Linked DNA regions of Homo sapiens: region 1 is linked to region 2. Evidence: fine-mapped expression QTL. A gene starts in region 2. The other region holds a variant in brackets. All regions are shown on one strand. Distances are between the middles of the regions. Region 1 overlaps NHERF2 (NHERF family PDZ scaffold protein 2). Region 2 holds the start of E4F1 (E4F transcription factor 1).

Evidence for each region.
Region 1: its variant is fine-mapped to the expression of E4F1 in whole blood (TOPMed, PIP above 0.99).

Annotation. Positions count from the first base shown.
Region 1 is chr16:2,030,021-2,041,572 of GRCh38, forward strand. NHERF2 (NHERF family PDZ scaffold protein 2) reads left to right here. Exons shown (of 7, transcript NM_001130012.3): 3 at 6,304-6,483; 4 at 6,708-6,861; 5 at 6,935-6,978; 6 at 7,518-7,580; 7 at 7,806-9,006. The coding sequence ends at 7,964. It overlaps NTHL1 (nth like DNA glycosylase 1), which reads right to left. Exons shown (of 6, transcript NM_002528.7): 5 at 10,113-10,218; 6 at 9,800-10,027. The coding sequence ends at 9,904. Among named protein-coding and RNA genes, the nearest start is that of NHERF2, 8.9 kb to the left of the region's middle. RefSeq lists enhancers at 2,539-3,123, 6,628-7,210. The variant G/C (reference allele first, on the strand shown) is at 6,291.
Region 2 is chr16:2,217,463-2,229,014 of GRCh38, forward strand. E4F1 (E4F transcription factor 1) reads left to right here and starts at 6,129. Exons shown (of 14, transcript NM_004424.5): 1 at 6,129-6,308; 2 at 10,910-11,061. The coding sequence starts at 6,152. RefSeq lists enhancers at 2,469-3,093, 6,024-6,193, 6,424-6,563, 7,819-8,319 and silencers at 5,824-5,963, 6,254-6,343.

The sequences.
Region 1 (11,552 bases), 190 kb before region 2:
TGCTCCAGAGCCACTTGCCCTATCGAGGGGTCACTCTGACAAGCTGCCGCCTCCCCAGCCCCCAGCCTCGTGGCTGAGGAACCCTGGGAAGAGGCATTCCAGGTCTGCGTGTGCGCAGCTCTGTGCCTGTGCTGGGTGTCATCCGTGGCTCTGTCTTTGTCTCTGTTGAAGGCGCCTGCATGCTGGGAAGGCCTGGGAGAGGGCCGGCCTTCTCCACAGGCAGCGCCGTGGTTGGGGAAGCCTAGGAGGCCACTCTGCCAGGCCTGGCGTAGGTGGGGCTGGGAGCATGGGAGTGGAGTTGGGGGTCCAGGAGGCTCCAGGGTGAGCCCACTCCTCCCCCTAGATACAAGGGAGGGCCCTGGGACCCTGTCTGCTGTTCCTCCTGGACTCCTGCTGGGTAGTACTTCCTCCTTCCCCTGCCCTTGCTCCCAGCCAGGAGACCCAGAAAAGTACAGGGGCGGCCTGCTCCACCTCCTGCTAGGTGGCCGACTGGGAGGGGCGGCCTGGCAGGCCTTGGGGACCAGGAGGAACAGCCTGAAGCTGTCTGTCTTATCTTCCTGGAGGCCCTGATGGCATTATCTCCATGTTCTCTCCTACCTTTTTTTTTTTTTTTTTTTCATTTTCAAAGAGAACCCTGGCCGGGTGCGGTGGCTCACGCCTGTAATCCCAACACTTCGGGAGGCTGAGATGGGTGGATCACCTGAGGTCAGGAATTTTGAGACCAGCTTGACTAATGTGGTGAAACCCCCGTCTCTACTAAAAATACAAAAATCAGTTGGGCATGGTGGGGCACGCCTATAGTCCCAGCTACTTGGGAGGCTGAGGCAGGAGAGTCGCTTGAACCCGGCAGGCGGAGGTTTCAGTGAGCCGAGATCCCGCCATAGCACTCCAGCCTAGGCGACAGAGTGAGACTGTCTCAAAAAAAAACAAAAAAAGGAAAAGAAAGAAATCCCTTCAGGGGATATGAGTCCAGGGGTTGGCCAGACCCCACTGTGAGAACCGCGCTTGGGGCAGGGGTGTGGGATCTGGAGTTCTGAGGGTGCAGGGGATATACACATTCACTTTCTCCCTTTCCCAGACGTCACTGCTGAAGCTGGCTGCCCCTAGGAGCTGAGCCCGGGGGGAGCGGCTTGGCAGGGAGACAGCATTCCCTGTGGGGAGCCCAGCCTGGGCGCAGGCCTGCCCGTGGGACCTGTGGGACCCGTTTTGTTCCTGGGGCTTGAGGGCGGGCCACAGTGGTGCTCAGGGCCAAGGTGCCCAGCCCAGGGCTGGTGGGGGGGCTGGCCTTGCAGGGGGGCTGGCTGGTCCTAAGCCCCTGTCTCCAGGCTGAGGGTTGGGGCCTCCCTCTTTCCCAGCCACCTTCCCTCCCCCAGGAGGAAGCTCCCCCTCTGCCTCAGGCGTTTGTCCATTGATTTGGACACAAACGCATGGTTCACCTTCCTGTGGAAAAATCCGGCCCTCGGACTTTATCTGGAGGGTGCAGTGGCCCAGGCACCTTGCCTTGGGTGGGACCTTCCCCCTCTGCTATTTCAGGCTCTGGGGGCTGCAGGAAGCCCTAGGAGGGGCTTCCTCTGGGTGTATTTTTAGAGGAACAAAGGGTGGCCTGAGTGGCAGGTCCCTTTGTGCATGAGTCTGGCTGGGGACAGGGGCTCCAGGAGGTCAGGGGGCACCCAAGGAACAGGGTCTCCCCTTCTCTCTTCTGGCATCAAGACCTGAGGTTTCTTTTTCTTTTTCTTTCTTGGCTCACTACAACCTCCGCTGTCTGGGTTCAAGCGATTCTCTTGCCTCACCCTCCCCAGTAGCTGGGATTACAGGCGCGCACCACCACACCTGACTAATTTTTGTGTTTTTAGTAGAGACGGGGTTTCACCATGTTGCTCAAGCTGGTCTCGAACTCCTGATCTCAGGTGATCTGCCCTCCTCGACCTCCCAAAGTTCTGGGATTACAGGTGTGAGCCACTGTACCCGGCCCCTGAGGTCTGAGGTTTCATTTCTTTCTTTCTTTTTTTTTTTTTTTGAGACGGAGTTTCACTCTGTCGCCCAGGCTGGAGTGCTGTGGTGCGATCTCGGCTCACTGCAAGCTCCGCCTCCTGGGTTCAAGCAATTCTTATGTCTCAGCCTGCTGAGTAGCTGGGATTACAGGCGTGTACCACCACACCTGGCTAATTTTTGTGTTTTTGGTAGAGACAGGGTTTCACCGTGTTGGCCAGGCTGGTCTCAAACTCTTGGGCTCAAGTGATCCGCCTGCCTCAGCCTCCCAAAGTGCTGGGATTACAGGTGTGAGCCCCTGCGCCTGGCTCAGGACCTGAGGTTTCTTCACCTGAGCTCCCAGCATGGGCAGGAAGAGGTGGGCCTCACCTGACCTCCACAGAGCAGGCTCAGATCCTGCCCTTCTCAGCCTGGGTTCAGGGCATGCCTCAGATGGTCAGGGAGCCCAGGAGGGCAAAGCTTACCTTGCGGGGATGGCTCCAGTGGGGGCACTGGTGGCAGAGAGGCAGAGCTCTGGAAGGGATGTGTGTAGTTTGTCTTTGGTGAAGGATGGAGAGGGCCCAACTTTGGGTGCCCCCTGGGAGCTAAGGGTGGCTCTCAGTGTCCTCTGTCCTGGCTGGGGATAGGGGAGGTGGGCAGGGGAGGACACTGATGTGGTTGGCCCCTCCTTTTGGGGGCCGTGAAGGCCTAGTTAGTGATGACTCAGCCCTGGGCCACACCAGGCTGGGGGTGGCCGCAGCTGCAGTGCAGCTGATCCTAGTAGTGACGACAGGGGACAGCCCCCAAACAGAGACGGGGTGGCCAGCGGTGCCAGGCCCTGGAGGTGGTGGCAGACCCTGAGCCCTCTGCCCCCTGCCCCTAGCCCATGTCTCCACCCCCATCTGGAGGGCCTTGGGGGCTAAGAGCAGGTGTGAGGGGTGACAGTTCTGCGGGAGGCGGCTGTGTGGTTGGGGCGCGGTGCCTGCGGGGGCTTCCGGGCTTCCCTGGCTCTTGCTCCTCTGGAGCCTCAACAGGACCGTCCTGTGTTCTGGGGCCGGGACTCCTCCCTGTCCCCTCAGCCCTGGGTCCTGGGGCAGGGCAGGGCCTTCCAGCAGCTTCCTTCCTTCCTTTCTTGGGACGGAAGCCTAGCTGGGTGGGGGGCGCCAGGCTGGAGCCTTCGCAGGGGAGCGGGCTCAGTCATCACCCTGCTCCCCAGAGTGACTCAGCCCCCACGTCCCCACCCATCCCCGGGGAGCCAGGGCCGCAGAGGGAGGTAGATAAGTGGGGTGGCAGCCTGGGTCGGCCAGAGAGTTCAGGCCACCCCGGCCGGACGCCTGCCACTTGCTGTCACTGTGCCGCTGTCATGGCACGCTCCGGGAGTGCCACGCCACCTGCCCGGGCTCCGGGAGCCCCTCCACGGAGCCCACCCCAGAGGCTGGTACAGGTCAGGTGGGGTGGGAGGAAGGGAGGGCTAGGAGGAACCGGCAGCCGCTCAGCCTCCCGGGGTGGAAGGAGGGGACTCCGGGACCTTGATGTAAGCAGGCTGGTCGCTGAGCAACAATGAAGGCCTTTCTCTGCCAGGGCTGGTGCGTCACCATCTGGGGGGGTGCCCAGGGTACCCCCATGCCAGCCTCTTTGTCCGGACACAGGCATGGCTGGGGGACCAGGGATGGTCCAGCTCTGTGCTGGCCGCCGGCAGGGAGGGAGCCTGGAGCCCGTGGGAGCCCGAGGGCCTGGCGGGAGGCGGCAGGAAGTGTGTGCTGAGCCAGGGCAGGGAGGAGGAATGTGAGCTATGAACGCCGCCCGAGCTCCTCGGCTCTCTGGGCCCCCCTTCCCCACGAGCCCATGTGCTGCCAGCAGCCCACCCTGGCCCCTCCATTGCAGCCCCTCCACCTGAGGTTTTAGTGCTGTGCCTGGCGCCACTGGGACCCTGCTGACAATGAAGGGGTTTAGGTTTGATAGGCAGAACTTCTTGCCTTGTAGAGTGAAAGACGGCTGCTTCTGGACAGAGGCAGAGGGGTGGCCAGAATGACCCTGAGAACACTGAGGGGTCCTTGGCCTGGCCTCAGGGCCCCAGACACCCACCAGATCCTGCTTCCTGTCTGGTGCCCTGAGAAACCCTGCCCCGCAGGCCGCTGTGCAGGCGTGGGAAGGGCTGCCGGGCCAGCACTGTGGGGCTGGCCGCATGTGTGGGCTGCTGTGCGTGTTTGCAGGTGTGTGTGGACGTCTTGTGTCTGTGGCTGTGTGATGTGTCTTTGCGGACTGGGCCCATATCACGCTCCCACCTCCTCCACTGAATTGGGCTCCTGTCCCCACGCCTTCCCTGCGTCCCAGGCCAGCCTGGGGGCCGTGCTCCACCTCCCCTCCCGAACTGGACTCCTGTCCCCACGCCTTCCCTCCGTCCCAGGCCAGCCTGGGGGCCGTGCTCCACCTCCCCTCCCGAACTGGACTCCTGTCCCCACGCCTTCCCTCCGTCCCAGGCCAGCCTGGGGGCCGTGCTCCACCTCCCCTCCCGAACTGGACTCCTGTCCCCACGCCTTCCCTCCGTCCCAGGCCAGCCTGGGGGCCGTGCTCCACCTCCCCTCCCGAACTGGGCTCCTGTCCCCACGCCTTCCCTCCGTCCCAGGCCAGCCTGGGGGCCGTGCTCCACCTCCCCTCCCGAACTGGACTCCTGTCCCCACGCCTTCCCTCCGTCCCAGGCCAGCCTGGGGGCCGTGCTCCACCTCCCCTCCCGAACTGGGCTCCTGTCCCCACGCCTTCCCTCCGTCCCAGGCCAGCCTGGGGGCTGTGCTCCACTTCCCCTCCCGAACTGGACTCCTGTCCCCACGCCTTCCCTGCGTCCCAGGCCAGCCTGGGGGCCGTGCTGTGACTGCATCCCTGAGGGGCACTTTGGTGGGCAGGTGTCAGGGTCAGCCTTGAAGCCCCACGCCTGTGCCACCAGGTGTGTCTGGGGGAGGAGTGAGTCTATGTGGTGGGGCCCTGGAGATTTTGGGGGTCTTGCACCCTCTAATTCAGCCCATGTGGCCCAGCTGAGCCCCTGTGGGGCCAGGGAGCCACAGGCTTGTCCCTGGAGTTTCTGGTGTGACGGGCTGGGTGGTGGCCATGCAGAGAGGGTTCAGAGGGTGGGCAGGAGGCTTCAGATGAGGCATCTGGCAGGCTGGACAGGAGAAGGGTGTTCCAGACCAAGGGCAGGTCCTGAGCCCAGGGGACAGAGCACTAGCTGTGTGGAGAAGGACCCCCTTGCTCCCTTGGCGGGGCGGTCCCCCCCGCTGACATGGCCGTTTCTGGTCCATTGGGGTTTGGAGCGAGCTTGAAGGTGGGTGGCTGGAGGGGTTGGGGGTGTCTGAGGCCTGGAGACCTGCCCTCCTGAGGTCTGAGCGCCCCCTTGCCATGCCGCCCCAGCCCTGGCCTGGCCTGGCCTGTGGTCCCTCAGGGACACACAGGGAGGTAGGAGGTGAGGGAAGGGCCCTGGCAGCCCCCAGCCCGCCTGCACAGTCTCCCCTGCGCACGCCCTCAAGCTTGGCGCTCCCTGGAAACCTGAGCTGCCTCCTGCCTGCTCCGGCCACCGCCATGTTTAACTGAGCACGGGCAGCCGCTGGCCACCGCCGCCGCACCCTGGCCCACCCCCTGGCTGGGAGGTGGTCATTGGGCCTGGCCTTGCCTGCATGGTCCCCTGGCCCAGAGCCCTACCGCAGGATGCCAGAGGTAACATGGGGCAGGGCCTGGGATGGTAGCGGGGGGTCCTTCCGGGCACCAGGAGGCCCTCTGTGCCCTGTCCACACTAAGCTCCTGCCCCAGCCCCTGCTTGCTGGGCCCACGGGGGTGGGGCGGCTCATTTTCCTGGAATGTGAAAGCAAACAGAGCCGCCACCGCAGCCAGCCCCACGGAGGCCTCTGGAGAGAAAACAAAACTGCTGGCCTAGGAGCGCCTGCCCCACGCTCTGGAGGAGAGCCCGGGGCAGGGGGACGCACAGGCAGAGCCCTCAGGGACAACCGCCCCAGGAGGCCAACGGCGACAGTTCATCCCACCTGGTGCTTCCTCCCACCCTGCCTGTGCGCCACGCTGGCCTCGAGCCAAAGGAATTCTCCCAGCAACCCGGGAAGGCGGCTGGGCCCGTCGGGGAGGCTTCTGGGTTTGAAAACAGGCTTTGCCCAAGTTCCCACAGCTAAAGCTCTGTCACAGGCAGCCTGGGTGCCCGGAGTGTTTGCCACTGAGACCTGGGCCTGCCCGTGGGGGGCACGGTACCGAGTTTGGGCAGTGGCGGCACCACCGGGGAGTGGCCTCTGGAGGCGGGAGGCTGGAGCAAGAGACTGACCCTGTCC[G/C]TTGGGCCTGCAGGATGTCAGTGGGCCCCTGAGGGAGCTGCGCCCTCGGCTCTGCCACCTGCGAAAGGGACCTCAGGGCTATGGGTTCAACCTGCATAGTGACAAGTCCCGGCCCGGCCAGTACATCCGCTCTGTGGACCCGGGCTCACCTGCCGCCCGCTCTGGCCTCCGCGCCCAGGACCGGCTCATTGAGGTACCGGCCCACCAGGGCTGCGGGGTGCCGAGTGCCCCGCACCTGTCCACACTGGGGCCCTGGGTCCTTGCAGGGAGGAGGGAGACGCTGGGAACCTGAGCTGGTGCGCCTCCTGCTGCCTCGGTGGGCGGTGGCTGTGATGAATATTTGATGCCACACCTGGCCACGCGGCGTTGGGGGCTGTCTGGGCCCATGGCGGGGCTGATACATGCTGGTGGCGGCAGGTGAACGGGCAGAATGTGGAGGGACTGCGCCATGCTGAGGTGGTGGCCAGCATCAAGGCACGGGAGGACGAGGCCCGGCTGCTGGTCGTGGACCCCGAGACAGATGAACACTTCAAGCGGCTTCGGGTCACACCCACCGAGGAGCACGTGGAAGGTGGGCCACGGCCCAGGGCACAGGGTGGGTGCGGTGTGGTGGCTGAGCAGCCACTGACACGCTGTCCCCACAGGTCCTCTGCCGTCACCCGTCACCAATGGAACCAGCCCTGCCCAGGTAAGAGGGTGGGGTGCCCATGAGACACAGGGTGCCTCTGGGGGTACCCAGGCCCGACAGAGGCCCCCTTCTCCCTGGAGATCCGTCCTCGAGGTGTGCTAGTGACACCCGATTTTAGCCCTGTCACCTCCCTTTAATGCCCCTGTGGGTCTCATCCTGGGTCGTGCCACACACAAGCCACGTGGGGCCCCTGGGGTCGGGGCCACTGCCTTCTGTCCTCTCCTGGGCACCACCTGGTAAGGAGTTGCCCTCCAGTCTCTGCCTCCTCAGGGAGCTGGCGGTGGCCTCACCCCAGGCGTTGCTCACGCCGGCCATTCCTGCACCTGAACCCCCTCTGCACCATGAGCCGGCCAGGCCACCTGCCTGTCACTGCCAGGCGCCCGGTGCCTGCCCCGCCGCATCTGGAGTCCACCAGAGGCCCGAGGCCCCCTGCCGAGTGGAGGAGCACACACTGGGGGGGGGTGTGCCTCTGTGCACATGTGTGCGTGTGCAGGTGTTGTGTGTGTCTGTGAAACCACAATCTGCCCTTGGTTTCCCAGCTCAATGGTGGCTCTGCGTGCTCGTCCCGAAGTGACCTGCCTGGTTCCGACAAGGACACTGAGGTATGGATGTTCTCCACTCCTGAGCTCACACGTGGGGTTGCTAGAGGCCTTGGGGTAGGCGTCTGTGGAGATGTCAGCCCGGGCAGTGGGGTCTCTGTTCAGGAAGTCCTCGTGAGCCCCAGCCCCAGCAGGCAGCCTCTGTTGGTTGCTCCCTAGGAGGGGCCACCGTCTGGGGTGTGGGACTAGGGCTCACTCCAGACACCCCACCCACCGTGCTCACCCCAGGATGGCAGTGCCTGGAAGCAAGATCCCTTCCAGGAGAGCGGCCTCCACCTGAGCCCCACGGCGGCCGAGGCCAAGGAGAAGGCTCGAGCCATGCGAGTCAACAAGCGCGCGCCACAGATGGACTGGAACAGGAAGCGTGAAATCTTCAGCAACTTCTGAGCCCCTTCCTGCCTGTCTCGGGACCCTGGGACCCCTCCCGCACGGACCTTGGGCCTCAGCCTGCCCCGAGCTCCCCCAGCCTCAGTGGACTGGAGGGTGGTCCTGCCATTGCCCAGAAATCAGCCCCAGCCCCGGTGAGCCCCCATCCTGCCCCTGCCCACCAGGTACTGGGGGCCTGTGGCAGCAAGATAGGGGGAGAGAGACCCAGAGATGTGAGAGAGAGTCAGAGACAGAGACAGAGAGAGAGAGAGAGAGACACAGAGAGAGACAGAGAGAGAGCGAGCGAGCGCGCGGCAGCCGCGGGGCGAGGGCCTTTGCTGCTCTGCCGGGGCCTGCTGACTGAAAGGAATTTGTGTTTTTGCTTTTTTTCCAAAAAGATCTCCAGCTCCACACATGTTTCCACTTAATACCAGAGACCCCCCCCCTTCCCCTCCCCCTTCCCCTCCCCCTTGGGACGCGCTCTAAATAATTGCAATAAAACAAACCTTTCTCTGCAAACCATTTCCTCCCCGCCCCCTCCCCTCAGCAGCGGCCGTCCTGAGTGGGAGTCCCTGGGACTTCCCAGTGGCCAAGTTGGGGCGCCCAGCCTCTTCGTGGGGACCTTGGGTAAGGCCAGGGAGGCCTGATGTGGCCGTAGGAGCTGCCCCTGCCCACCTGCCCTGGTGTGGGGGTCCCTAGGCCACACCCTGCTCCCCACCCAGCTACCCTGTGCGCCTGTGCCCTGCTGGGGGCCTGGGCTCTCCGAGGGGCCTGAGGATGGAGGCCCCACGTCCCCGAGGAGGGCGGCCTCTGGACAGGCCCCTCATTCCGCGCGGCAGCTCCCAGGCCTGGGGAACGTAGGTGTGTGAGAGCGGCACCCGGGAAGGACGCCTGGCCTCTGGCTCAGCCCTGCTTGGCGGGCTCCCCCGTGGACACCCTGTTGACTTTGCACTTCCCTCCCGGGCCCCGCACCCCCGAACCGACCACCGATCGACCGGCACCGCTGTTGCCTCGTAAGCCATAGCGCATGCGCGCTCTCAGGATAAACAGGCCCTGCCTGGGACCCACACGCCTCTGTCTTTTCTGAGCCTCCTCCCCGTGGGGTGAGAGGGGTGGAGGGATGAGGCTGTTTCAGGGAGCCCCCTCCCCGAGTCTCAGCAGCTGGAAACGGTCTCGTTCCTGAGCCCGTGCCCTGCATCCATCTGCTCCCAGCCCTGCTCCATCTCCCCCGCTGACCCCCATGGGACCCCCTGCTGTGTGGCACATCCTGGGCCCATGCCCATCTCTCTTATTTGGCAGACTCAGCCTCCCACCTTCACCTTCCCTGTGAAGCCATCCGGCCCCACACAACACCCACACGGGCCACCCTTTGCCCAATTCACCCTGCGACCTCTAGCAGTCACAGGTCAAGCTTTGTACCCTGTGGCGCCCTGCCTGGGTCCCCAGTGTCCCTTTCAAGGCCGGGTAGCTCTGTAAACAGGGGTGGGACCCTGGCAGAGGCTGGGCTTTGAGGGCATGAAAGTTCAGGAGCTGGCGGTGTCCGGGCTGGGAAGCTGGGGGGCCGGCGGTGGATAGCATGAGGGGCCAGGGTCCCCAGCCAGCTGCCCGGGGGCTGCTTGCTTCCCCAGCGGACTTCCAACAGCTGGCTGCAGCTGGCTCTCCCCACTTCCTCCCTCCCAGGTTCATGCACACCCCCTCCCCCTCCCTGAGTACATAGCAAAGATTGTCACGTCCCCAGCCGGCCTCCCAGGCAGCCCTGCTCCAGACACGCGAGCACGGGTGTGTACGAACACATCCTTGTATGCGATTCCCAGGCTCTCTGCCCCCTCAGGGACAGACATCAGCCAGATCCCATCTGCAAACACACCAAAGCTTTATTCAACAGGCGTGGCTTCCTGAAGCGTAAAGCCACTTCACAGACGGTGGCCACAGCGGCACCTCGGCCAGAGCCATGCGGCCATCAGAGACCCTGGGCGGCCGGGCAGAGGGCTTGGTTGAGGCAGGCGTGGCAGCGAGGGTGCACAGGCAGACAGGTCTGCTGGCCGAAGCCCACCAAGAGTCCATTGATCTCGTGCCACAGCTCCCTGTGGGGGTGGGGGCTGGGTCAGTGCTGACAGAGGGCGGGCGGGGTGAGCTCTTCTCCCTAGGAAGCCCCCCACATACTCATACCTAGGCAGCCACTCCTCCAGGGCGGCGCGGGTCTCCTCTGGGGACTTGGTTGCCTTCTTGGTCCACCTCAGCCTGTTGGCGATTCTGTGCACATGCGTGTCCACTGCTGCTGGGAGGCCAAGCGGGGTGAACAGGGGCACACTCCACCAGCCTAGCCCGTGCCCCTCCCCGCCCAGAGGCGAGTCTGCCACCACCCCCGTGGCCCTCCAGTTAGACATTGGAACCGCAAAGCCCTGGCTGCAAGCCTACATGTGACCATCTTGGCTGCCCCTGAGGTGCTGGGGCAGGGGCTGAGCCCTCTGTTGGGGTGCAGGCCTCTCTCCCATCACCTGAGCCAGCCTGGGGGGCTCTGTTCTGGGCTGCCCACTCCCAACACTGGTGCTAGTTGGATGTGTGGGTGGTGGGGTCTCTGCTTTGGGCAGGGCCTGGGGGTGATGACTCGGCTCTGCTTGGAGCTCTATTCCCCACAATAACAGCGACAGCTCGCTTGGACAAACGCTTGCTGGGGGCCAGACCCTGCCAGAGAGATTGGCCAGCTCAGTGAGTCCTCATGAGGTCCTACGGATGCTGAAACCGAGGCCCGGCAGGATCCCGACTCCGAAGCACCTCTCAGCCCTCAGCCTCCCCAGGAACGTGGCCCTGTCCCCGGAAGGGTCCATCCAGGCTTCCCTCTGTCTGTCTCCTGTGGCCTGAGGCTCCTCTCGGCATAAGCACTGGCTCTGGGCACCAGGCTGGGTGGCAACAGCTCTGCCTGGCAGGCCGGCATGAGGTCACTGCCTGCAGACCTAGCACCTGCCACTGCAGCGGTCAGGGACACAGCGGGAGCATGCCCTGGCCGGCCGCAGCTGCTGTCCACCTGGGTTCTGGCTCCTGCTCCCCTCAGCTGGCCACCCCAGGCGTCTGCTCACTGGGGCTCCCTTCTCCCACCCGGTGGCCCCGGCCAGCTGCAGCCCCAGCCCTGCCTCCTCCTCCCGTGTTTCCCAAAGAGAAAGCCGAGGCCTGCACCAGCTCCTTCGCTGCTGCCTAGAAAAAGGTGTCCGAGGGTGTGGGGAGACCACAAGGCCTGAGGGGTCACACCCCTGGGGCTCTGAGCCTCAGTTTCCTCCTCTGTAACACGGAAGTGGCCATGCTTCAAGGCTGAGTCAGGCCACGTCACGTTGTGTGAGCCTCCTGCCCACCTGGACAGTGAATGACGAGGACTGCCTCACCCACTTTGTGGCCAGAGCTTAGAGAAGCCAAGGGCCTGGCCCAGAGTCACCCAGCCAGGAGGTGCAGAGCTGGGACCGGAGCCAGCAATCTATGGCTGTGGCATTTTTTTTTTTTTTTAAACGGAGTCTTGCTCTGTCACCCAGGCTGGATACAGACAATGGTGCGATCTCCACTCACTGCAACTTTCGCCTCTGGGTTTCAAGCGATTCTCCTGCCTCAGCCTCCCGAGGA
Region 2 (11,552 bases):
TTGGGATTAAACTCAGTCAACCCCAAAGCTGAGCTCTGCCCCATCTGGTCGGCTTAACGTCCTCAGAATATGCCTGTATGTGTGCAGGTAGGAGGGGAGGCATGGTCACTTGTGGGGAAGGTCCTGGCGGAGGCTGGGAGGAAAGTGCGCTTTATAGGAGAGGACTGACTTTGGGAACAGGGTGATGTGGCCCTGCATCTGGGGCTAGAGGACCCCTTTGGGTGCCCCCCACACAGGAGGCATTCAGTCTCTATCTGTGAGGGGATGGCCCCAGTGTCTCCCCAAGTAAGGATCTTGTACTGCAAGCCGACCTGGGGATGGCTTTCAGTGGCACGAGAACAGACACTATTTCACCTTAACAGAGTTGCATCAATTTACATTGCAATAGAAAATATAAGTAGCCCGCTAGGCGCGGTGGCTCACGCCTGTAATCCCAGCACTTTGGGAGGCCGAGGAGGGCAGATAACCTGAGGTCAGGAGTTAGAGACCAGCCTTACTAACATGGAGAAACCCCATCTCTACTAAAAATACAAAATTAGCCGGGCGTGGTAGCACACGCTTGGGAGGCTGAGGCAGAATTGCTTGAACCCAGGAGGCGGAGGTTGCAGTGAGCCAAGGTTGCACCACTGCACTCCAGCCTGGGTGACAGAGTGAGACTCGATCTCAAAAAAAAAAAAAAAAAGGATTTTGTAGTTCCTGTTTGGGTCTGGCTGTGGAATGTCCACAGGCATTATTCTGTTGAGCCAGGCTGAGGCCTGCATGGGAAAGGAGGCCGTTTGGAGAAAGGGAGGGTCTAGTCTTGCTGCCTGTGCCTGGCCTCTCTGCCTTCCAAGGGTCTATCCACTCCCATGCTTGCCAGTGGCCTGGGCTCTGGGCAAAGCAGGGCCTGAGGTCACCTGATCAGGATGCCCTTTTCTTTTTGAGATACGGTCTCACTTTGTTACCCAGGCTGGCGGGCAGTGGTGCCATCTCAGCTGACTGCAACCTCCGCCCCACCAGGTTCAAGCAATTCTCCTGCCTCAGCCTCCCTAGTAGCTGGGATTATAGGTGTGTGTCACCACACCTGGCTAACTTTTGTATTTTTTTTTTGTTCGTTTTGAGACCGAGTCTCGCTCTGTTGCCCAAGCTGGAGTGCAGTGGCGCGATCTCGGCTCACTGCAACCTCCGCCTCCGGGTTGAAGCGATTCTCCTGTCTCGCCCTCCCGAGTAGCTGGGACTACAGGCGTGTGCCACCACACCCGGCTGATTTTTTTTTTTTTTTTTTAGTAGAGACAGGGTTTCACCATGTTAGCCAGGATGGTCTCAATACCCTGACCTCGTGATCCGCCCTCCTTGGCCTCCCAAAGTGCTGGGATTACAGGCGTGAGCCACCGCGCCCGGCAACTTTTTTTTTTTTTTTTTTTTTTTTTTGAGACAGAGTCTCGCTCTGTTGCCCAGGCTGGAGTGCAATGGCATGATCTCGACTCACTGCAACCTCCACCTCCTAGGTTCAAGCGATTCTCCTGCCTCAGCCTCCTGAGTAGCTGGGATTACAGGCACATGCCACCAGGCCTGGCTAATTTTTGTATTTTTAGTAGAGACGGGGTTTCACCATGTTGGTCAGGATGGTCTTGAACTCCTGACCTTTTAATCCCCCCGCCTCGGCCTCCCAAAGTGCTGGGATTACAGGCATGAGCCACCGTGCCCGGCCCAACTTTTGTATTTTTAATAGAGATGGGGGTTTCTGCTGTGTTGGCCAGGCTGGTCTCAAACTTCTGACCTCAGATGATCCGTCTGCCTCGGCCTCCCAGAGTGCTGGGATTACAGGCGTGAGCCACCGCTCCCGGCCCCCTTTGCCTCTTAAAGGCCTCACCTCTTTTTTTATTTTTATTTTTATTTTTATTTTTATTTTTATTGATCATTCTTGGGTGTTTCTCACAGAGGGGGATTTGGCAGGGTCATAGGACAATAGTGGAGGGAAGGTCAGCAGATAAACAAGTGAACAAAGGTCTCTGGTTTTCCTAGGCAGAGGACCCTGCAGCCTTCCGCAGTGTTTGTGTCCCTGGGTACTTGAGATTAGGGAGTGGTGATGACTCTTAAGGAGCATGCTGCCTTCAAGCATCTGTTTAACAAAGCACATCTTGCACCGCCCTTAATCCATTCAACCCTGAGTGGACACAGCACATGTTTCAGAGAGCACAGGGTTGGGGATAAGGTCACAGATCAACAGGATCCCAAGGCAGAAGAATTTTTCTTAGTACAGAACAAAATGAAAAGTCTCCCATGTCTACCTCTTTCTACACAGACACGGCAACCATCCGATTTCTCAATCTTTTCCCCACCTTTCCCGCCTTCCTATTCTACAAAGCCGCCATTGTCATCCTGGCCCGTTCTAAATGAGCTGTTGGGCACACCTCCCAGACGGGGTGGTGGCCGGGCAGAGGGGTTCCTCACTTCCCAGTAGGGGTGGCCGGGCAGAGGCGCCCCTCACCTCCCGGACGGGGCGGCTGGCTGGGCGGGGGGCTGACCCCCCCACCTCCCTCCCGGATGGGGCGGCTGAAGGCCTCACCTCTTAATGCTGTTACATTGGGGATAAAGTTTCAGCATGAGTTTAGAGGGGACAATCATCCCATCCATACCCCTAAATCCCCTGGATACCGGCTTCTCAGTTACTCCTCAGCACACCATGAATGGAGGTCTTTTGGGGCTCTGCACTCACCTCCTCCATGGCTTCACCTCACCCACCTGTCTCCTGGTCCTCCTCCCCAGCAGCTCCCCAGAACCCTCAAGCTCCAAAAGCTCCAACCTGCTCTTCGTTCTGTTTGCCCCACTCAGAGACCACCCATTCTGGCTCTCAGTGGCTTTCTGAGCCCCTTCCTGCTTCTGCTTAAGCCCTAAAATCCCCTTTTTTTTTTTTTTTTTGAGACAGAGTCTCGATCTGTCACCCAGGCTGGAGTGCAGTGGCGAGATCTCGGCTCACTGCAACCTCCGCTTCCCGGGTTCAGGCCATTCTCCTGTCTCAGCCTCCCGAGTAGCTGGGACTACAGGCAGCCGTCACCACACCCGGCTAATTTTTGTATTTTTACTAGAGACGGGCTTTCACCATATTGGTCAGGCTGTCTTGAACTCCTGACCTCAGGTGATCTGCCCGCCTCAGCCTCCCAAAGTGTTGGGATTACAGGCGTGAGTCACTGGGCCCGGCCTAAAGTCCCTTTTTCTGTGCAGCAGTTAGAGGGATGTTTCTGCAACACCCACCATCATTCCCTCTGCTCAAAACCTTGCAGTGGTGAGCAACCTACTTGCAGAAAGCGGGCCCATTGTTACCCCAACCTGACTGCCGATCACCTTACCTGAGCCTGGAGGTGGAGGCTGCTAGGATCACACCAATGCACTCCAGCCTGGGTGACAGAGTGAGACCCTATCTCAAAGCAAACAAAACAGGGCCAGGCGCAGTGGCTCACGCCTGTAATCGCAGCACTTTGGGAGGCCAAGGCGGACGTATCACGAGGTCAAGAAATCAAGACCATCCTGGCTAACATGGTGAAACCCCATCTCTACTAAAAATGCAAAAAAATTAGCCAGGCATGGTGGCGGGCATCTGTCGTCCCAGCTACTCCGGAGGCTGAGGCAGGAGAATGGCGTGAACCCGGGAGGCGGAGGTGGCAGTGAGCCGAGATCATGCCACTGCACTCCAGCTTGGATGACAGAGTGAGACCCTCAAAAAACAAACAATGAAAGTCACATATTGTAGGACATGTTCACAACAGGTAAATTTATCATGGAGGCAGAAGGTAGACTGGCGTCTACCCAGGGCTGGCAGGGAGGGGCGGATGGGGAATCACTGCTTCAAAGGCACAGGTTTCCTTTCAGGGTGCCGGAAAGGTTCTGTACCCACATAGCTGTGATAGTTGCACAACACTGTGAATGTCGCTAATAGTAAATTTTATGTGCACTTACCACAGTTTTTTTTGAGACGGAATCTTGCTCTGTTGCCCAGGCCGGAGTACAGTGGCACGATCTCGGCTCACTGAAACCTCTGCCTCCCAGGTTCAAACGATTCTCCTGCCTCAGCCTCCTGAGTAGCTAGGATTACACGCGTGCACCACCACACCCAGATAATTTTTGTATTTTTAGTAAAGACGTAATTTTGCCATGTTGGCCTGCTTGGTCTTGAACTCCTGATGTCAGGTGATCCACCCACCTCAGCCTCCCAAAGTGCTGGGATTACGGGAGTGAGCCACTGTGCCTGGCCCACAATTTTTTAAAAGTATGTAAGAGGGCTGAGGCAGGCAGATCGCTTGAACTCAGGAGTTCTATAGCAGCCTAGGCAACATGGCAAAAACCCATCTCTACAAAATATACAAAAATTAGCTAGTGATGGGCACCTGTAGTCCCAGCTACTTGGGTGGTTGAGGTAGAGGCTGCAGTGAGCTGAGATCACGGCACTGCACTCCAGCCTGGGCGACAGAGCAAGGTGCTGTTTCAAAAAAAAATCTGGCCAGGCTCGGTGGCTCATGCCTGTCATCCCAGCACTTTGGGAGGCCAAGGGGGACGGATCACCTGAGGTCAGGAGTTCAAAACCAGCATGGCCAACATGGTGAAACTCCGTCTCTCCTAAAAATATAAAAAAATTAGCCGGGTGTGGTGGCAGTTGCCTGTAGTCCCAGCTACTCAGGAGGCTGAGGCAGGAGAATCGCTTGAACCTGGGAGGCGGAGATTGCAGTGAACCAAGATCGTGCCGTTGCATTCTAGCCTAGGTGACAGAGCGAGACTCCATCTCAAAAAACAAAAACAGGCCGGGCGCGGTGGCTCATGCTTGTAATCCCAGCACTTTGGGAGGCCGAGGCGGGCAGATCGTGAGGTCAAGAGCTTGAGACCATCTAGGCCAACATGGTGAAACCCTGTCTCTACTAAAAATACAAAAATTAGCTGGCCATGGTGGTGCACTCCTGTAGTCCCAGCTACTCGGGAGGCTGAGGCAGGACAATCATTTGAACCCAGGAGGCGGAGGCTGCAGTGAGATCGCGCCATTGCACTCCAGCCTAGGTGATAGAGTGAGACTCTGTCTCAAAAACAAACACCCCAAACAAACAAAAACCAAAAACAACCCCCATCTCCAAAACCAAAAATTCAACGTGGCTGGGAGTCGTGGCTCACGCCTGTCATCCTAGCACTTTGGGAGGCCGAAATGGGAAAATGGTTTGAGGCTAGGAGTTTGAGACCAGCCTAGTCTAAACAGCAAGACCCTGTCTCTATTTAAAATACATAATGCAAATAAATTTTAAAAAATTTAAAAAGTGGCTGGGCACGGTGGCTCACGCCTGTAATCCCAGCACTTTGGGAGGCCGAGGCGGGCGGATCACGAGGTCAGGAGATCGAGACCATCCTGGCTATCACGGTGAAACCCCGTCTCTACTAAAAATACAAAAAATTAGCCTGGCGTGGTGGCGGACACCTGTAGTCCCAGCTACTCAGGAGGCTGAGGCAGGAGAATGGCGTGAACCCGGGAGGCAGAGCTTGCAGTGAGCCGAGATCGCGCCACTGCACTCCAGCCTGGGCGATAGAAAGAGACTCCGTCTCAAAAAAGAAAGAAAAAAAAATTAAAAGTATATAAAAGAATAAAACAGCTTCGCAGAGCTACCCATGAGCCATCCCCGACCCGTGTTCTTTTCCCGTGACCCGGGTAACCATCTTGGGAGGCTCTAACACCCTAGGCGGTCAGTGGGCAGCAGGCACCACACCCCTGGTTGGAGCTGTGGCGGCTTCCCAGCAGCAGCCGCGGGCGGGGCGACCTGTCCTTAGGTACGGAAGCGCTGGGGCGCGGCTGCCTAGCAGCCGCCAGTCCGCTCGCCCCTCGCGTTCTCTGGCTCTCAAATCCGAGTGCAGCCTCGAACATAGGTCCTTCTGCCGCCCCGCCCCCTGGCTGGCAATCTGCTCCACCGTAACCACGCCCTCCCCACAGTCCCGCCCCATCTTCGCTCTCAGCGCGCCCGGCCCCGCCTCTGCCCTTTAAGGCCACACCGCTATCCAGGCCCGGCTCCCCGCCTGTCCGTCAATCCGCTCCGGTTCTGCCCCGCCCTCCTCTTGCCGTTCCCTCACGCTGGCCTCGGCGCGGCCCGTTGTTATGACGACATGGTCGTAAATCCGCCATCTTCCTGCGGCGCGTTGCGACATGGAGGGCGCGATGGCAGTGCGGGTGACGGCCGCTCATACGGCAGAAGCCCAGGCCGAAGCCGGGCGGGAAGCGGGCGAGGGTGCAGTTGCGGCGGTGGCGGCGGCCTTGGCCCCCAGCGGCTTCCTCGGCCTCCCGGCGCCCTTCAGCGAGGAAGGTAACCGGGCCGACCCGGAGGGTGCGGCCGGGGTGCGGGCAGTTCATCCCGGGCTGGCAGAGGCCCGGATGGCCCGAGCTGCGGGCTCGACCGACCCTCCCAGACCCAGACACCTCGCGGATCTCGCGGGACCCTCACAGCCCTCCACGAAACCCCCAGGTTTGCTGCGACCCTCACGGGCCTCTCCTGCGGGGCGCCTGTCATCCCCCCTCTCTGGTGTGCGTCCACAAGTGCTCGCGGGTTGCTGAGCCCCCGGGCGCCCGGTGTAGACATTCGCAGACGCCGGCGTCCCGGCCCTTCTCTGCCTCCGATGCCTGAGCCTGGCCCTCCCCTCCTCTGGGCCCCTTCCTCCTGCACCTGATGGGCGTCTAGGGCCCTGTTGGTGGTTCCAAGAGGGTGGGGCCTCGGTTTCTCCAGGATCTGGGCTCTGGGCCTGTCCGTAGGGAGGCAGCAGAGCCTAGTGCAAGAGGGCTGGTGCACTGCAGCCAGCCTGTGGCCCCTTCCAGTCCCACACTTGCCGCTTTCTAGTTCTTTGATCCTGGGTAGGTGACCCTACCTCTGTGAACCTCTATTTCCCCTACAGAATGGGGCGGCGGCTTCTGCCAGTAATGTAACAAGCCCTTATCCTGCTTTAGGTTTTTTCATTCTCAAACCAGTCCTGACAGGTGGATGTTATTGTTATTCTCATTTTGGGGATGAGGAAAATCGAAGGTTGGAGACCTGAAAGTGACCGGGTGGGCTGGGTGCGGTGGCTCACGCCTGTAATCCCAGCACTTTGGGAGGTCGAGACGGGCGGGTCACGAGGTCAGGAGATGGAGACCATCCTGGCCAACATGGTGAAACCCGTCTCTACTAAAAATACAAAAAAACAAAATTAGCCGGGCGTGGTGGCGGGCGCCTGTAGTGGGGAGGCTGAGGCGGAGAATGGCGTGAACTCGGGAGGTGGAGCTTGCGGTGAGCCGAGACCGCGCCACTGCACTCCAGCCTGGGCGGCAGAGCCGGACTCCGTCTCAAAAGAAAAGAAAATGACCAGGGTCACCCAGGTAGTTAAGTAGCAAGGGTTGGATTGGATCTCAGCACTGTGAAGGCCTTCACAGCCCCTTTAACTTCCGGGCTCTGCTGCCTCATAGAAGCATCATGGGAATTAAAATAAAGATTGTGGCCAGGCGCAGTGGCTCACGCCTGTAATCCCAGCACTTTGGGAGGCCAAGGTGGGTGGATCACCTGAGGTCAGGAGTTCGAGACCAGCCTGGCCAACATGGTGAAACCCCTTCTCTACTAAAAATACAAAAATTAGCTGGGCGTGGTGGTGCGCGTCTGTAATCCCAGCTACTTGGGAAGGTGAGGTAGGAGAATTGCTTGAGCCCAGGAGACGGAGGTCGCAGTAAGCCGAGATCGCACCACTGCTCTCCAGCCTGGGTGACAGAGCAAGACTGTCTCAAAAAAAGAAAAAAGATTGTGTGTCATGTGCCGAGAGCAGTGTTGGGGATGCACTAAGGGCTCATTCCTGGGGGCACTGAGAGCTTTTGGAGATGGAGCTTGGGTCTGTACCCTCTGAGCTTGTCCTATGAGGCTGCAGATGGCTGGGCACTGTGGCTCATACCTGTAACCCCAACACTTTGGGAGGCTGAGGTGAGAGGATCACTTGAGCCCAAGGAGTTCCAGACCAGCCTGGGCAACATAGTAAGACCCCGTCTCTATTTTCTTTTTTTTTTTTTTTGAGACGGCGTTTCTCTCTTGTTGCCCAGGCTGGAGTGCAATGGTGCGATCTCGGCTCACCGCAACCTCCGCCTCCCGGGTTCAAGCTATTCTCCTGACTCGGCCTCCTGAGTAGCTGGGATTACGGCACGCGGCATCACACCCGGCTAATTTTGCATTTTTAGTAGAGACTGGATTTCTCCATGTTGGCCAGGCTGGTCTTGAACTCCCGACCTCAGGTGATCTGCCCGCCTCAGCCTCCCAAAGTGCTGGGAATACAGTCGTGCGCCACCGTGCCCGGCTCCTCCCAGTCTCTGTTTAGGAAAAAAAAAAAAAAAAAAAAAAGGCTGGGCGCAATGGCTCGCGCCTGTAATCCCAGCACTTTGGGAGGCTGAGACGGGCGGATCCCGAGGTCAGGAGATCGAGACCACCCTGGCTAACAGGTGAAACCCTGTCTTACTAAAAATACAAAAAATTAGCTGGCCGTGGTGGCAGGCGCCTGTAGTCACAGCTTCTCAGGAGGCTGAGGCAGGAGAATGGCATGAGCCCAGGAGGCAGAGCTTGCAGTGAGCTGAGATCGCCCCACTGCACTCCAGCCTGGGCAACAAAGCGAGACTCCGCCTTGAAAGAAAAAAAAAAAAGATGCAGATTGGGTCAGACAGGAAGGGAGGTTGTTAATGATTGGGTTGAGGGTGGTCTTGTCTTTGTCCCCATAGGATTCATAGTCTCTGCCTTTTTTCCTTGCCCCTTCTCGTTCCAGCTTGGAGAAGGGCAGTGCCCTCATGGCGAGGAGTCCCTTTAGAGGTTGCTGGGCCTGCTTGTGGCCTTGTCTGGTGTGAAATGGGCTGGGTGTGTCCCCTTCTGGGGTAGGGGGTTCTTCAGTGGCAATGCCCTGGAGCCGAGTGAGACACAGGAGTAGGGTGGGAAGGGGAAGAGGGTGGTGGGCACCTTAGAGCTTGGTTTGTGACTGGGAGCCATCAGGAGAGGACGACTCTGTTGGGTGGCCCCTGCAGGCGAGTCATAGCTGTGGTTTGGCCCTTTCTCCGCCCTCAAATTCAACAGTAAACATTTGCCCAGCTCCTTCGGGCATCAGGCCTGGGTTTGATCCTGCCGAGGGACTGAAGGTGAATGGTCAGAGCTGGCAGGCTTTTATGGAAGCAGAAGAAACAGCTCCTATCCCTTTGTGTAAACAGGTACTGTCCCTGACACTCAGCCGTTTGGTGACCTTGAACTTCAGGTCATTTTCCTAGGATGGGAATAGTTCTCTCCATTTCCACAGGGTGCTGGCAAGATTTGGTGACGTCCCCAGTGAGGTGCTTGGCACACAGTGAGGGGGTGGTCTCTTCTGCACGACCGGGGTCCGGCACAGCAATGGTGACGGGCTCAACCTTGGGAACCAGTAAAGTCCCAAGTCAGTGAGCAGAGTGGTTGTGGGTCAGCTCCCTGCATTTGCCTCTCAGCCAGAGCCAGTGGGCATCAGTCTCCTGGGCCCCAGCCCATTTTACAGATGAGGAGATGGCCACTCACATGCTCCAGGGCACGCTCAAACTCCCGCAGTTTTTGTTTGTTTGTTTTGTTTTTGTTTCTTTTAAGGCAGGGTCTTGCCCTGTTGCCCTGGCTGAAGTGCAGTGGTGTGATCATGGCTTACTGCAGCCTCCACCCCTGGGCTCAATCAATCCTCCTGAATAGCTGGGACTACAGGTGCATGCCGCCACACTTCCACGCTTGGCTAAATGTTTGTTTTTTGGTTTTGTTTTTTGAGATGGAGTCTCTCTCTGTTGCCCCGGCTGGAGTGCAATGGGGAGATCTTGGCTTACTGCAACCTTCGCCTCCCAGGTTGAAGTGATTCTCCTGCCTCAGCCTCTCGAATAGCTGGGATTACAGGCATGCGCCACCAAGCCTGGCTAATATTGTTTTTTTTGAAACGGAGTCTCGCTCTTTCGCCCAGGCTGGAGTGCAGTGGTGTGATCTCGGCTCACTGCAAGCTCTGCCTGCCGGGTTCATGCCATTCTCCTGCCTCAGCCTCCCGAGTAGCTGGGACTATAGGCACCTGCCACCATGCCTGGCTAAGTTTTTTGCATTTTTAGTAGAGACGGGGTTTCACGGTGTTAGCCAGGATGGTCTCAATCTCCTGACCTCATGATCCGCCCGCTTCAGCCTCCCAAAGTGCTGGGATTACAAGCATGAGCCACCGCCCTAATTTTGTATTTTTAGTAGAGATGGGATTTCACCATATTGGTCAGGCTGGTCTCGAACTCCTGACCTCAGGTGATACACCTGTCTCAGCCTCCCAAAGTGTTGGGATTACAGGTGTGAGCCACCACACCCAGCCTAAATGTTTAACAATGTTTTAAAAACTTTTTTTTTTTTTTTTTTGGTAGAGATGGGTCTTGCTATGTTGACCAGGCTCGTCTTGAACTCCTGGGCTCAAGCTATCCTCCCACCTTGGCCCCTTAAAGTGCTGAGATTACAAGTGTGAGCCACCATGCCCGGCCCCAGCAGTCTTAAATCCTGGTCCTTTACTGTCCCCAAATTAGCATGGAGGAGTCCCTCTGCCTCCCAGCCCCTCTCTGGGCCTCTCGCCTGTCAGTCGCTGAGGTGGGTTTTGAGCATGGCAGCCTTAGCAGGTCCCTGCAGCCTAAGCGTGCTGTCAGGGCCACCCTCTGCTGGGTGCTGACCTCCTGAGGGTGGGTCTGGCCCCTGCAGACCTGCAGAGGATAGGGGCTGTACCTTGGGATGACCTTGTTTTGGGCCCGAGTGTGTTCTCAGCAGCCTGGGGAAGTAGCTCTGCTTCTGATGGCCTCCTGGGGGAATCTGTTCTAGGGCTGGAGGAAAAGCCAGACGGAGCCCTGGCTGCCCAGCCTCCGCCTTCCCAGGCCCTGCTGACAGCAGGCTCGTTGCAGATGAGGACGATGTGCACAGATGCGGCCGCTGCCAGGCAGAGTTCACCGCCTTGGAGGATTTTGTTCAGCACAAGATTCAGAAGGCCTGCCAGCGGGCCCCTCCGGAGGCCCTGCCTGCCACCCCTGCCACCACAGCGTTGCTGGGCCAGGAGGTGAGCCCTCACCCACTCCCCCATCCCCTCCCGGGTTCACCTGACAGGTGGGGGAGGTGGCCGCGCTTCAGGATGGACCTGTGCAGCCGGTTCCGGGGGCCACGTGGGCGGGCAGAGGGCAGGCACCTGGCTGCGGTGTGGGAGGGTCCGGGTGTGTGAGCCTGTGGTGCTCTGGGGCGTCCTGGAGGGCCTGCGGTGGCCCAGCCTTCTTGGCAGCCTCTGGTCGAAGCCCGTGCTGTTGGGGGCCGGGATCTCTTCTTTCTTGGAGCTGGAGGGTCTCCTTTGGCTCTGGGGTACCATGGCAGCTTCTGTCTCTTTGGCTTATCTTCTGTCCTGTGCACACAGTCCCTAGGGACTTCACACGTGAAGTGTGGCCCTGGGGGGTCCCGCCATCTCATCAGCAAATGGCCACCTTTGCTGAGCCCCACGCCCAGCTTGGGCTGGATACACAGGCCTGTGAACCCCGCACACGCCGCAGCGGGCGCTTGTCA